2 linked regions of the Homo sapiens genome follow. The protein of the gene in region 1 interacts with the protein of each later gene in a biochemical or structural test. Each region holds a gene or a part of one and is shown on either strand. Other genes may lie near its edges.

Region 1 (7,027 bases):
GGCCAGGATGGTCTCGATCTCCTGACCTCATGATCTGCCCGCCTTGGCCTCCCAAAGTGCTGGATTACAGGTATGAGCCACCATGCCCGGCGCAAAAGTGCTTAAATTTAACTAGGGGAGGAGAAAAAAGCTGGGCCTGGTAATATATCAATGTTATTACTAGGAATAAACTCTAAACTTAGGTTTACCAACAGGAAAAAAAGGTGTTCACGGTTAGTGCAACTGTCTGCAGCACAAGCTAAAGACTAAATCCTAGACAGCAAGTTGAGGTTCTTCAAACTGAGGGCAGTTGGCGAACTTCCAAGAGCACATTTATACAGCAATAAAAGCAACAAAAAGTTTTTTTTTAACTTTTAAGATGAATGACAAAGGACAAATCGAGATGTATGCTTCTTGTTTACCTATGTGTCTTAAATGTCATTTTGGTATGCCACCTTCAGTTTAAATGATCTTATTTAAAAATTACCCTTTTTGGATTAATAAATTAAAGGCTGTTAAAAGAAGAAATAACAAAGTACTATAGGTGGACATCAGTTTTTGTGTACCAGCATGTATTTCTCCATTTGTAAAACAGCAGTCTGATTTTCCAAGGAGAATCTCCCCATCTGGCCAGGTGGGACAATTCCCAGACTAACCAGAGCCACCCCCTGGCCACAGTGTTGTTTCTGATGAAAAAGAACGCAAGGCAGGCAAGTGACATAGCTCTAGCACTTCCGATGGAACTACGGGGGGTGGGGGGGTGGGGGGGTGGGGGGGGGAAGGCCCTCTTCATGCTTCCTTGAAGCTGGGGATAGTTAGCCTGCAAACTACCTGAGAAACAGAAAGAAAGCAAAGTCAAGAGTCCTGGTGATGCTGCTTGAAACCCTGGATATAGCAATCTGAGGTCAGCTCTATCTCCAGACCAAGCCAATGAATTCCCCTTTTTACTTAAGTCTGACTCTTACATGTTCCCTGATAACTGAACAGAAACTGAATGACTAACGTCCTTAGAAATAACAGCAATATAGTACAAACCATAAAAACAATTCAATCAATCAGTAATTTAGTCGATAATGCATAGAAATAGTTACTTTAAAACAGCAGCTGTCAAACTCTCTGATCTCAGGATCCCTTTATTCATATTCTTTTTCTGAGACATAGTCTCAGTCTGTTGCCCAGGCTGGACTGCAGAGGCATGTTCTCAGCTCTCTGCAACCTCCGCCTCCCAGGTTCAAGTGATTCTCGTGCCTCAGCCTCCCAAGTAGCTGGGATTACAGACATGTACCACCATGCCCAGCTAATTTTTGTATGTTTAGTAGAGAAAGGGTTTCGTCATGTTGGCCAAGTTGGACCTTTATTTATACTCTTCATTATTAAAGACACCAAATAGCTTTTATGCGGGCTATATACATTGATATTTATCATATTATAAATAAATAAAACTACTAAAATTTTTGGTATTTGCTTTATTAATTCATTTAAAATAATAAACCCATTACGTTAATATAAACATCTTATGAAAAACAGAATTTTCTAAAACAAAGTCAGGAATCAGAGTAACACTGTTTTACATCTTCACAAATTTCTCTTAATGCCTAGCTTAATAGGAGACAGCTGGATTCCCATATCTGCTTCTGCATTCAATCTGCTATGATATGTTGTTTTGTTTAAAGTACATGAAGAAAACGTGTCTCACATGGACAGCTAATTGGAAGAGAGGAGTATTTTAACAGCCTTCTCAGAAAACAATGGATATTCATCTTTTATTCAACACCAAAACTCAAGTGGCAATTCTGAAAGGTTAGTTGCAATGTGGAATTCACTGTATCAGTGAACTTTTTGGCTCTGGTGTATATAAAAATCCATTTGTCTATGTTGTACTTTGAACGGATCGCCTACCCATGCACGATTTTGTAACATGAATTGGTCATTTGGGAAAATATTGGTTCAATGAGTTACACAGATCTTCCCAGTGTTGACACACTTCCTCATACTGCCCCCCCCCCCACAGTCTCGCTCTGTAGCCTAGGCCCGAGTGCAGTGGTGCGATCCTAGCTTAATCCAGCCTTGAACTCCCTGGCTGAAGCAATCTTCTCACCTCACCCTCCTGAGCAGCTAGAACTACATGCCACTACACCTAATTTTTATATGTTATTGTAGAAACAGGGTCTCGAACTCTTGGCCAAAAGCAATTCTCCCACCTCCGCCTCCCACAGTGCTAGAAATATGGGTGTGCATCATCGTGCCCAGCCCAACATATTTTTTTTAATCACATTCCTTAATATCACCACCCATCTCATCAGAAAAGTCTTTAAGTATTAAGAAACTGGCAAGTCATAGTGACAGGAGTTTCCCAAAAATCTGATTTTCACTTGAAACATCAGATTTTAGCACTGGCTATAAATGTTCTCCTCGAAGTGGCCAGCTCACTTTATTCATTTCCAAGGAATTACCTGCCAAATACTCAAATCTAAATAGCTATCTGAGCTTATCTGTCATCCTGTTAAATAAAAATAAAAATGGTGTCCCACTAAAAAGCAGCTAGTTCAGCTTGCAGCTCAATAACACAAGTGCTTTTCCTAGAAAAGAACACTGTACTTCAATGTGCAGAAATGCTTTATGCATACTTCCCATTTAATCACACTATTAAAAAGACATACTCCAAGGTAGAGATTTTTTTAAAATTAAACCTTTTTACTGCTGCAGCAAGGGGATTATTAAGTGAAACCGGCATTTTTTCAAATGCTTATGTGTGTTTGACTATAAAGAACACAATGAGGACTCATATGTTTGGTATAACTGCCTAGAGTCATTTTAAAGTGCCAGCAGTTTACCCACCACTGCTCCTTCACCACCCATACAAATGTCCTCACAGTGAAAGGGCAAATAACGTCTCAGTTTCATTATGAAAATAATTTTGATTTTGTGAACCCCTTAAATATAAGGATCCTAGGGATCTCCAGGAGTCTGTGGACCATACTTTGGGAACCACTGTTTTAAAAGATGGTGGAAACCAAACTGAATTTTAATAACTGATAACTGAAAAATACATTTTATAAAACTTTTTTTGTTTTTTTGAGACAGTCTCGCTCTGTCAGCTAGGCTGGAGTGCAGTGGCACAATCTCAGCTCACTGCAACCTCTGTCTCCCAGGCTCAAGCAATTCTCTTGCCTCAGCCTCCCAAGAAGCTGGGATTACAGGCATGTGAGTAGCTGGGATTACAGGCATGTGCCACCATGCCCAATGAATTTTTGTATTTTTAGTAGAGACGGGGTTTCACCATGTTGGTCAGGCTGGTCTCAAACTCCTGACCTCAGGTAATCCGCACCCCCCTTGGCCTCCCAAAGTGCTGAGATTACAGGCGTGAGTCACCGCACCCGGCCTCATTTCATAAAACTTTTAACTGAAGCAGAGTTTCAAGTCATCTAGCTTATTCCTTCAAAGGGGGATGTATCAAAATCCCCCGCAGGTTAGGCCAGCTCCACTAACTAGAATCAAGGGTGGGGCTGTACCTTTAAAAAACACTCTGGAAGTCTGAGGTACTGTTAGTTTTACAAAGCATTGATCTAGTCTACAATCTTTACTTTACAAATTAAGTATCATGAGTATATGCAACTGATTAAAAAGACTAATTATATAGAAGTTGTATCATTTTTCCTTACAATTAGCCAGCCCCTTCATTATTTCAGCATCTATACACATTCTTCCTTCAACTAGTTTTAGTAGGCATATTTATGATGTAAGACACACCTAATGTGTTTATGTACAATGATTCCTGGCTTAGCTTACCCCATTAAATATTATTTCCGGTCATCCTTTCACTAGATTATTCAATTTTTACAAGGACTGCCCATCTACTGATAACATATGCTCTAGAATTCACTAGTGAATATCACTGACAAATATCCTTAATTCATCTTATATTTAGAAATACATTTTGACTTGAAAAGACCTGAGTAGCATACATTCATCCATATTAACATACAGAAATAATACCTTACTATAAAAATATATATTCGGTAGCATTCCTAGTTTTAAATCATAAATAAGATTTGGCTAGCCTGGGCAACAAAGCAAGACCCCCGCCCCCCCATTTCTACAAAACAGTTTTAAAAAAATCAGCCAGGCGTGGTGGTGCCGGCCTGTAGTCCTAGCTACTCTGGAGGCTGAGGCAAGATCTCTTGAACCCAGAAGTTGAAGGTTATAGAGGGCTATGATGATGTTACTGCACTCCATCCTGGGCAACCTGTCTCTAAAAAATAGATAAATAAAGCAGTAAGGATAAGCATACCAAAATAAACAAAACCTTTAGAATCAAGAGGCACTTTTTAAAAATAACACAGATTCCCATGCCTCCTCCACTCCATTCCCATTCTGAAGCAGCATGTGTGTTGCAATCAGATGGGAAAAAATATTTTTATTTTTTTAAATAGCTCTTCCAGAGACAGAGATGAAACTACTCCATAGCCCAGCACTTGGGAACTACTTCAGGTGATGTAAATGGAGAGCTGAACATGCCCTAGATGATCTCTACAGAAGTACTAGCTAGCTGGCCTAGCTGAGCAAATGTCTCACAGTGTATTAATTAAGCCCTGACAGAAAAAGCCCAATGCAACCTGCCTCTCAGAAACCAGTTAAGTGACTAGTTAATTGGGGGCTTGAAAATGTAAGGTTTACCAAGTAGATTAACGCCCTAAGAAGACAATTTGCATTGGGAGTTATATTTATTTATTTATTTATTTATTTTAGAGATGAGGTCTCACTTTGTTGCCCAGGCTGGCCTTGAAATCCTGGGCTCAAGTGATCCTCTTGCCTTAGCCTCCTGAAGTGCTGAGATTATAGATGTGAGCCACCAGACCAAGCCCACAGGGAGTTCAGATGCTAACTTGGGGACTTAAAGTAATTAGTCTCCAAAAGGAGTACAAGTAAGCATTTGAGAATATACTTTAAAAGAAAATCAACTTCCTATTTAAAATAGTGATGATATACTAACTTCTCATCATGGGAAATACAGCTTCCTAAAACTTACTACCAGACAGTTCAAATAAACTGAAAGTGAAGAAAGAAACAGAGGAGAAAGGAATAGGTGACAGGAAGGGGGAGAGAAAAGAAAGAGACAGACACAGAAGCAAAGCAAATGTGGCAATACTTTCAAAAGACCCGTTAAGTTAGATGTGTGAGATGGCTACACTGTACATGTGTGTAACACTGTATTAAAGAATGTAAAGCTAACACAAGTGAAACAGTTCAAAAGAAAAAGTCAGAGGACCCTAATGACTCAATCACTGCGGAGGGCTAACCTGGCTGCACCCTAGACCAACCAAATCATAATTTCTGGGGCTAGAATTCAGGTATCAGTATTTTGTAAAGCTCCTCAAGGGATCTAAAAGTACAGCCAAGATTGAAAACTACTTGCCAGGCGTGGTGGCTCATGCCTTTAATCCCAGCACTTTGGGAGGTCGAGGTGGGACGATCACTTGAACCCAAGAGTTCAAGACCAGCCTGGGCAACAGAGAGAGACCCCCATCTCTACAAAAATTTTTCAAAAAATTAGACAGGTGTGATGGTGTGTGCCTGTAGTCCCAGCTACCGCAGCAGCTGAAGTGGGATTGCTTGAGCCTGGGTGGTAGAGGCTGCAGTGAGCTATGATTGCAGCACTGTACTCCAGGCTGGGGCACTGAGCAAGATGGAAAGAAAAAGGAAAAAAAGGCTGGGCGCGGTGGCTCATGCCTATAATCCCAGCACCTTGGGAGGCTGAGGCGGGTGGATCACCTGAGGTCAGGAGTTCAAGACTAGCCTTGCCCAAAATGGTGAAACCCCGTCCTCTACTAATAATACAAAAAAATTAGCTTGGCATGGTGGCGCACGCCTGTAATCTCAGCTACTCGGGAGGCTGAGGCAGGGGAATCGCTTGAACCCAGCAAGTGGAGGTTGCAGTGAGCCGAAATCGTACCATTGCACTCTAGCCTGGGTGACAAGAGCGAAACTCCGTCTCAGAAAAAAAAAAAGAAAAAGAAGAAAAAGAAGAAAAAGGGAGAAAGGGAGGGAGGGAGGGAGACAGGAGAGAAGAAAAGACCGTTGCCCTAAACATTGGGAGTAAAAAAGCAATAAAAAGATGAATTCAACACATTTACAAGTTTTCCAAACTGCAAAAAATTCTCATTTGGAATATAAATAATGAAATACAGTCTTTGGGCTGAACGGTCTTTACTGTTACCGCCAATTTTAAACTGATTAAAATGTTAACAGACCCTCTTTACAACTGGTCTTTGGTACTTATCTGATCTATAATATAATTTGCAGTAGCAACTCATCAAGGCTTAGATTATGAGAACCTTATAAATTGTAAGAATCCGACTACCTACCATCTTAGTTTTACATATGTAAGCACTACCCTAGTTTTCATTCACTCTCATAGTTAAAAACAAATGTTCCCGGATGCCAATTACACCAGGTAATAGTGTTAAGGTGACACAACCTAAAATACCTTGTTCCTGAGAAACTGGAATTCAGTCAAATTTCCCATTACCAAAATTACACATTTTAGAAAGAGAAAACAAAATCCAAAAATTCTAAATCTGACTTATGATCAAGCATATGCTTGATATATGCAAACAGCATCATTCTACAAGTAGCTCAAATGAATATATCTAGATATATTTGTGAACTGTTTGAATTTCTCATTTTAAAACAATTGAGACTTCATCAACTGTTGAACAAAAAGCCCAAAATGTGATAATTTTACAAAACTGTATTAAATGCTGTTATAGGACAGGCGCAGTGGCTCACGCCTGTAATCCCAGCACTTTGGGAGGCCAAGGCGGGCGGATCACCTGAGGTCAGTTGTTCAAGACCAGTCTGGCCAACATGGCGAAACCTCGTCTCTACTAAAAACACAAAAATTAGCCAAGCGTGGTGGCACATGCCTGTAATCCCAGCTACTCAGGAGGCTGACGCAGGAGAATCGCTTGAACCCGGAAGGCGGGGTTTGCAGTGAGTGGAGATCGCGCCTCTGCACTCCAGCCTGGACAACAGAGCGAGCCTCCAT
Region 2 (7,027 bases), on another chromosome or scaffold:
GGGCAAAACCCCGCAGGCAATTCCGCCACCCAGATGCGAGGGCTCAGCAGTCTCTGGTCTTTGCTCGTCACTGCCCCGAGGTCGTCTGTACCTGGGCAAGTAACCTCCACCTTCTGTGAGCGCGTGCAGCTGCCGCGGGTGTTAGAACGGATTCAAGCAAAGAACTCCTGTAAGATCTTCTTATGTAAATAAATACCGTAACTGTAGGATAGGTAGCCGCCTCTTGTCTACTGGGAAATCATTTTTCAAGCTTGGGCATAAGAAACCTTATACAATTTGCATAAACAGGTGAGAGTAAACGAGATTATTTGGAATAAATGCAAGGAACTTATTCTGAGAGTGGCAGATTCAGTCGCTACTGAAGACAGATATCTTGGGGGTAAAAAGACACGAGTCAGGATTTGCTGTACAAGATGCTGGAAGGCACAGAACGACCCCCGAAGTTCAGTTTTTGCATTTTCGTTTTCTTGTGATTCCCTTGTTCAACCAAGCACCAGAGGGGGTTTCTAAGCACTCGAGCACTTCGGATTTGACTGCTCTATAAATCGGTAAAAACCTCAGTTCACTGGGGAATAGAAAGAGAAGGGAAGGTTGTGGACAAAGTGCAGTTCTAAATATACGTTTAAATGAACGAACAAAAAAAAAGAAAGAAAAATTGAAATAATGCTCTTTTGTTCCAATGCTGCAGCCTCAGTCCCAAAATGAAGGGAGCGACGTTTGCCGAACTGAAAAGGGTCGCCCGGTCAGGCGGCACGTGTGCCCGGAGGGGCTGAGGGCGTGACCGCCAGCCACGGTCACCACCCGACGCAGGTCAGTGCCTCGTGGTGGAGGAGCGTGGGCAGAATCACGGGGTGCAGAGGAGCCGAAGACCGTCCCCTCAGCTCCGGGGCAGCTCCTGTGCGGCTCTGCACTTCCTGGTACCCGTGGGGACAGCGCTGGCATCGACGGCGGCGTGGCGGGCGGGGTAGGCGGCAGTAAGGCGGGCAGTGTTCGAGCTCATCTCGCACGCGGCACTGTCCCTGCTCTCCCTGGCAGCAGCAGGAAGACCTGGGTCCTTGTCGCTGAAAAAATAGACTCTGAAGAAAAACCCCTGCTGTCCTCACGCAGCCGCGGGCAGATGAGCTGTGATGGCTTCCCCGGGTGGGGAGGGTGGGGCGGCCGCCACCCCCACTCCGTTGCGGGTCTTCAGATGGCGTCATGTGTTGGGGCTTTTAGAAGTTAGTCATTTAAAAATGTGTTGATTTTCTGAATTTCAAGTCTCCTTACTGGTTTTAAATAGCTTATAACAAAAGTGTAAATGTTAGAATGTTCCAGCAAGCAGAGGACCAGCAGGCCGCCGAGCTGGCCCCGTCTCCAGCTGTAGTTGGGGGACGCGGCTTACTCACTTGAACTTGGCCAGTAGAAAATTTTGCAGTGGGTTCCAAAACTACATGGTTACAAACACTCGCTTGGTAATAGGCACGGTAAGACGTTGTGCTGTGTGGGCTGCAGGGGCGGAGCCGGGCGGAGCTGCACCGCCCAGCCGCGCCCCCCTGCACCCGCGTTGTCGGCGGCGCTGCGGCGGCAGGCACGGAATCTACGGCTCCAGCTCCGCAGCGCCCTCGCTGCCCGCAGCCTCGGGGCGGGCCCGCGGCCACAGCTGTTCCTGCAGCTCCTTCACCACCTTCTCCAGGTGCTCCCGGGCCTCGCGCTCCCGCAGCAGGTCGGCCCGCAGCTGCTCCCGGTCCGCCTCCGCGTGCTGCAGCTTCACCTGCAGGTCTTCGATCTGAAAGGGAGCCGAGTGGTCAGCGGCGCCTGCTCGCTGCCCTGCCCCGGCCCGACGCTGCTTCCCCCACCCGAGGCTCCTGCGCCGCTCCCTGTCCCTCCCCAGTGCCGCGTGCCGGCCCCTCCTCCACCTGCTAGGACACAGGCTCACGAGACGCAGGGCCCAGCAACCACCCACCCTGTGCCCGTCGGGGGGGCACGCACGGAACGTGGTCCCGGGCCTGGCTTCTGCTCCAAGGCCTTTCCGGCTGGGCAGGACTGGCCACCGGGGCCCACGGCGGCTCCACGCCCACCGTGCTGCGTGCCTCAGTCTCCCCACCCGCATACCTGGGCCGAGTACTTGGCGCGCAGGCGGCCCGCCTCGCAGCCCTTGTCGCACACCCGGGCCTGCCGCGCCTGCTCCAGCTCCCGCTTCAGGCGCAGCCGTGACTCGTTGGCCTCTTTCATCTTCTTCTCGTTCTCGGCGCGGAGACGCTCGATCTCCTTCCGCAGGTTACGCTTGGCCTCCGTGGCCTCCCGCAGCTTCTCCTTCTTGGCCACGCGTAGGAACTCCAGCTCCTGGGGGCCGGAGGCGGCTCGGGGTCACTGCCCAGCCGGTCCCAGCACACCCCTCACCATGACCAGCAGTCCTCAGCCCACCCCGTGGGGTCATCTATCTGACAATGTGCCCTGGAGCCCCGCCCCCAGCGCGCCATCAGCCCAACCCGTGTGGTGCCCCGACCCCACAAAGGCTTTTCAGACCCCCATCCGGAGTTTCCGCCAGGCCTGTGGCAGCTGTGCTAAACCTGGGGGCCTGAGTCAGTCACTTGAGGCTGCGGCGGGGCCTCCCCCGGTATCTAGGGCCACGTTCCCCTTGGGGGCAGCAAGCCAAGTAGGCCCTGGCTCCCATCAATGTGAGGAGGGCAGCCTCAGACATCGCACCATCTGAGGGCCCCGGGTCTCCCCACGCAGCCAGATGGACACGTCCATCCGCCCGGCGCCTCCGCAAGCCCCCCCACTCTCCCCATTAAAATATCCGTGTGACTCACACCCCACGCTGCAAACACACCACATGAATATGTATGTGGGAAATCACACCTCCAACCAGAATCAAGGACAACAGTGGCGGGGGACGTGCTGGGGCGAGGGACTGGCACGCGCAGGAGGGCACGTCGGCAACCCTGCAGCTCTGAGGGCCGACGGGGTTGTGTTGTGCTAAAGCCCACGCCGCGGAAGCTGCCAGACGCCGCCGAGGTGTGAATTTAGCGAGGCCGGGGCCCGGTGAACAACGGGCCGCCTGCACACCTCTCTCCCCAGGCAGCTCTGCCTGTGAACCGCACTTCCCTCAGTCATGTCAGAAAGAAACCTAAACAACGTAAAAGGAGGCGCGAGACCGGAGCTGCAGCGTGAGAACCGTGAGGCAGAGCCCAGAGAAGCAGCGTGTGCAGGTGGGTGTGTGTGTGTCTGTGCGGGCCGAGCCCTCTCCTTCCTACTCGGGAGGCCTGGCGGGAGCCGCCTTCTGGAACACCAGGCATTAGTAAGCACGCCCCTCACGCCTGTGTTTTGCAGACGCCAGGTCTTGCTGGCGGAGCGCGTGAACACCCACTCCTGGAGCACACAGAGCAAGGAACTGTCTCCATGCAGCTGCTCCCAACTCTTTCTGCCACTAAAAATAGCCCGGCCTCCCTTATACCAGAGAAACATGGCTACTTCCTCAGTGGGGCCACCACGCAGGGTGTGTGATCCTGATGGGGAAAGCTGTGGTCAAGCCAAATGTAGTGGCCTCCTGGGATGTCCATCAGCCTGGGGACACTGAGGGGCTCACCATACCCAGGGCTGCAGCTTTTGGGAGACGGACCCCCAAGGTCCCAGGCAGGCCCACTGAGGTGGAGGCAGAGAGGAGCGCATGGGGCAGCCAGGAAGGGAGGAGGCACCACCTGTGCCCGTTCACCTGGTGCAGGCTGTGCTCACTGCCCGTGCCCTGGACCTCCCAGCACCACTCGCCCCGCTCACCTGGTGGAGGCTGCGCTTGGCCTGCAGGGCTGCGCTGAGCTTCTCCTCCTGCTTCACGCGCATCTTGACCACCTCATGCAGGAACTTCTCTTTGGCTTCCTTGGTGTCCAGGCCGCCCTCCAGTGCCTGCCGCAGGTGCTCCAGCTCCGCCTCCAGCCCACTGGGGGCGTCGGCAGGGGCCGCAGCATCAGGGACGGCCGAGGGCAGGGCACGCGCACCCGGGGAGCCCAGGTCCTTGGCGGAGCTGGATGAGGTAAAGGACGGGGAAGAGAGCGAGGACAAGGAGGAGGTGACTGAGGAGGAAGCAGAGACAGAAACAAAGTCATGGAAGTGCCCGGCAGCTCCACACCAGGGAGACGCGCCGCTCCCGGAGGAACCTGCGAAACATGGGGCCACCAACGCACCCCCGGCGACCAGCCCCCCTCAGCCAGTGCCACCCCCACAGCCCACAGGGAGGAGGCACAGAAAGCGACTCACACGTACATTCCTCCCTGCTTTCAACTTCCACCTCCGCCTCCGAGTCCTTGTCCTCCTCTGGGGCAGCCACGGGCGCCAGCGTCTCTGGGGCTCCTGGGGTGTCCACAGTCAGCTTCCGCTTCCGAGGCTGGGTGCAAGTGGCGAGAGGCTCGGGGGCCCGGGAGACGGCGGCGGCACACGGAGGGCTGCTCACAACCTTCTGCTGGGCCGGCGGTGCGAGGGCCACGTTGGGCGCCACGGCTGTCTCAAAGCTCTTGTAGGAGTAGAAGCTGGAGGGGCAGGCGGGTGTCGGGAAGGTGCCTCTGTCCCCAAGCACCACCCAGACACATCCTGGCGCACACCCCCTCTGAAGGTGTTAAACAGGAAAGACTTTCCCAGCTCCGAATCTTCAAGTCAAGCTTACAGTTCCCTAAGAACCCGTAAGCGTTTTCTGCTTGCTGGGTCTCTTGCGAAGGCCAGACACAGGCCAACACATCAAGAAGCTGCGCCCAGCAGACAGGGCTCCACCCACGACTCCACCCAGAACACAGGGAACGCTCTAGGTGTGCTCTCCCTGATGCCAGCCAAAGGAACCAACACCGAGACTGCCCTGACCAAAAGGCGGCAGGTCTGGGCACCCAGCCTGCAGAAACATGGGCGCGTCCGCATGCACAGCCCTCGTGGAGCCTCCCCCGTGATCAGAAACACCTGTGAATGGCGCCCACTCACCTGTCTCGGATGAGGGCCGGGAGGTGTGGGGAGAGCTCTTTCTCACTCGCTGACACTGCGGGGGACCAGGGTCGGAAAGCAGAGAGGCGCTGGCGAGGGTGAACACAGCCCAGGCTCTGTCGAGAAAGAGTTGTCTGTGTGAGTGACCAGGAGAAAAACAAGCCACTTCATGTCCCTGAGGCTGCGCCGGGTGCCAGCCCTCAGTAGCGGGCAGGTGGAGCTGCCAGCCGCTGGGTCTGCCCAAGGAGAAGGGCCCAGTACCCACCACCCCAAGGACCCCGACAGGCCCCACAGCACCTTATTGGAAGAGCCGGCCAAGGTCCGCAGCCAGCTGGACGGCTTGTCCTTTTCGGAAGGCGCGGGGGACTGGGAAGAGGTGTCATCTGTTTTGGGTCTTATGGAGGCCGGAGGCTCAGAGGAGACCTGCGATCAATGAAAGGTTTTGTTGGCACCTGTGGTTCCCAGGGCAGGGTCCCTCCACCAGCCCCGTGGCTGGCACATGGCAGTCAGAGCCCCATGCACTCCGGCCACAAACGACCCTGAGTGGCGCAGAAGGCAGATTCCAGGGCACCCCCCAGGAGACCAAGTTCACTTTGCATAAAGGCCCTTAGGCCACGCGCAACAGGCACGTGGAGGCTGTGCTGAGGGACAAGTCATCTCCGAGAGAACAGAGTGGACCTTGTCCTGCCATTCCGGGTGACCTCACCCACGGCTGCAGCAGGTTTGGGATGGAGCACCAAGACCCACTCTCCCCTTCCACAGCGGCTCAGCCTGGCCAGGAGTCCCTCGTCCTTCTCCTGCCAAACCCCTTTCCTAGAACCCGAGTGTGTCCTCAGAGGGTGCCCAGCGCTGGGCACTCAGCTCAACCAGCCACAGCACGGCGAGAGCCACTCACGACGGATGCGTCTGGGAAGGGCAGCTGCGGCACAGGGGTGGTCGCGGGGAGGGGACACCGTGTCCCTGTGGGCCACTGGCACAGGTGCATTAAAGAGTGGGCATTCTGGCTGCCCCCTCCCCATGGGAAGGAAACATTTTCAAAATGAAGGACACCATCCCCAAGGAGCCTGGCTCCTACAGGATGGCACCACACACACCTTTGCCTCGCTCCTTGCCAGCCCCGGTGCTGGAGGAAGCTTAGCGAAGGTGCCCAGACCCAGCCCACCCAGAACCAGGTCCCGCTGGTGGAGGAAGCTTAGCGAAGGTGCCTGGACCCAGCCCACTCAGAACCAGGTGTTGTGTGTCAGGTGCTGAGGCACATCCCCCAAGAGCCAGTGAGTGATGTGGGTTGTGTGCTGGGGGCCTGAGCCGGTACATCCAGCCTCAGGCAAACGTGAACTCCCACAGCCCTGCGGCTGGAAACCCCTGAGACGGTGCTGCCCGCAAGGCACAACTGAGACCCAAGGTCTCTTCCCAAGCAAAATCACAGGGCAGTCTCCGTAAAATGGGCCATTCCTCTACTGCCAAAGACCCCACAGGACAGCACAGAGTCTCCAGGGCAGCTGGCACCAGGTCTACACCACAGGCCAATGCAGAACAGGCCACACAGGGCAAGGGGCCCTTCACAGGGGTGAGGTCCCACTCACTCTGCCGAGGCCAACCTCAAGAGGAGGCAGCAAAGTCGGGCGGTGGGGGCTCCGCCCTTGCCCTCAGCCAGGAAGCCTTGGTGGACAGAGCACACTCAGGGCCGGGGGCTCTTCCCACCTCCAGGACTCTAGGAGAAGACGCTGCATCAGGAACCAGCCTCCTGGAGGCAGCAGGGACCCTGCTTCCCTAGGGGGAAGATGGGGCGCAGGGCAGGCTGTCCATCAAGGTGCTCCAATTATGGGGATGGAGGGCCCTGGGGGAAGATCTGGCCAAAGCCCGTGGCCTCCCCTGCAGCACGTGCACCCACCCTGCAGCCCTCAGGGAACAAGCAGGGTGGGGCCAGGGGAGGGGCAGGTGCCTGGCTCTGACCTGGGCCCAAGGGAGAAAGATAAGTGCTCGGGCGCACAGGGCCGGGGACGCAGGGCAGGCAGCCCCTGAAGGCTCACGGCTGTGGATGGTTTTTTTCAGAGACACTAAAATAGCTGTTCAGGAAAAAAGACAC

What was found.
Region 2: the proteins of SMAD4 (region 1) and SKI form a complex in vitro, tested with the Homo sapiens proteins (3 studies listed by BioGRID and IntAct, with this or other methods).

What each region holds. Positions count from the first base shown.
Region 1 is NC_000018.10:51,033,211-51,040,237, reverse strand, and holds part of SMAD4 (mothers against decapentaplegic homolog 4), read right to left. Parts: intron 1-7,027. UniProt on the Homo sapiens protein: In muscle physiology, plays a central role in the balance between atrophy and hypertrophy. When recruited by MSTN, promotes atrophy response via phosphorylated SMAD2/4.
Region 2 is NC_000001.11:2,301,315-2,308,341, reverse strand, and holds part of SKI (ski oncogene), read right to left. Parts: intron 5,365-7,027; coding exon 5,239-5,364; intron 5,058-5,238; coding exon 4,942-5,057; intron 4,503-4,941; coding exon 4,240-4,502; coding exon of another isoform or gene 4,234-4,239; intron 4,050-4,233; coding exon 3,757-4,049; intron 2,323-3,756; coding exon 2,092-2,322; intron 1,766-2,091; coding exon 1,577-1,765; 3' UTR 1-1,576. UniProt on the Homo sapiens protein: May play a role in terminal differentiation of skeletal muscle cells but not in the determination of cells to the myogenic lineage. Functions as a repressor of TGF-beta signaling.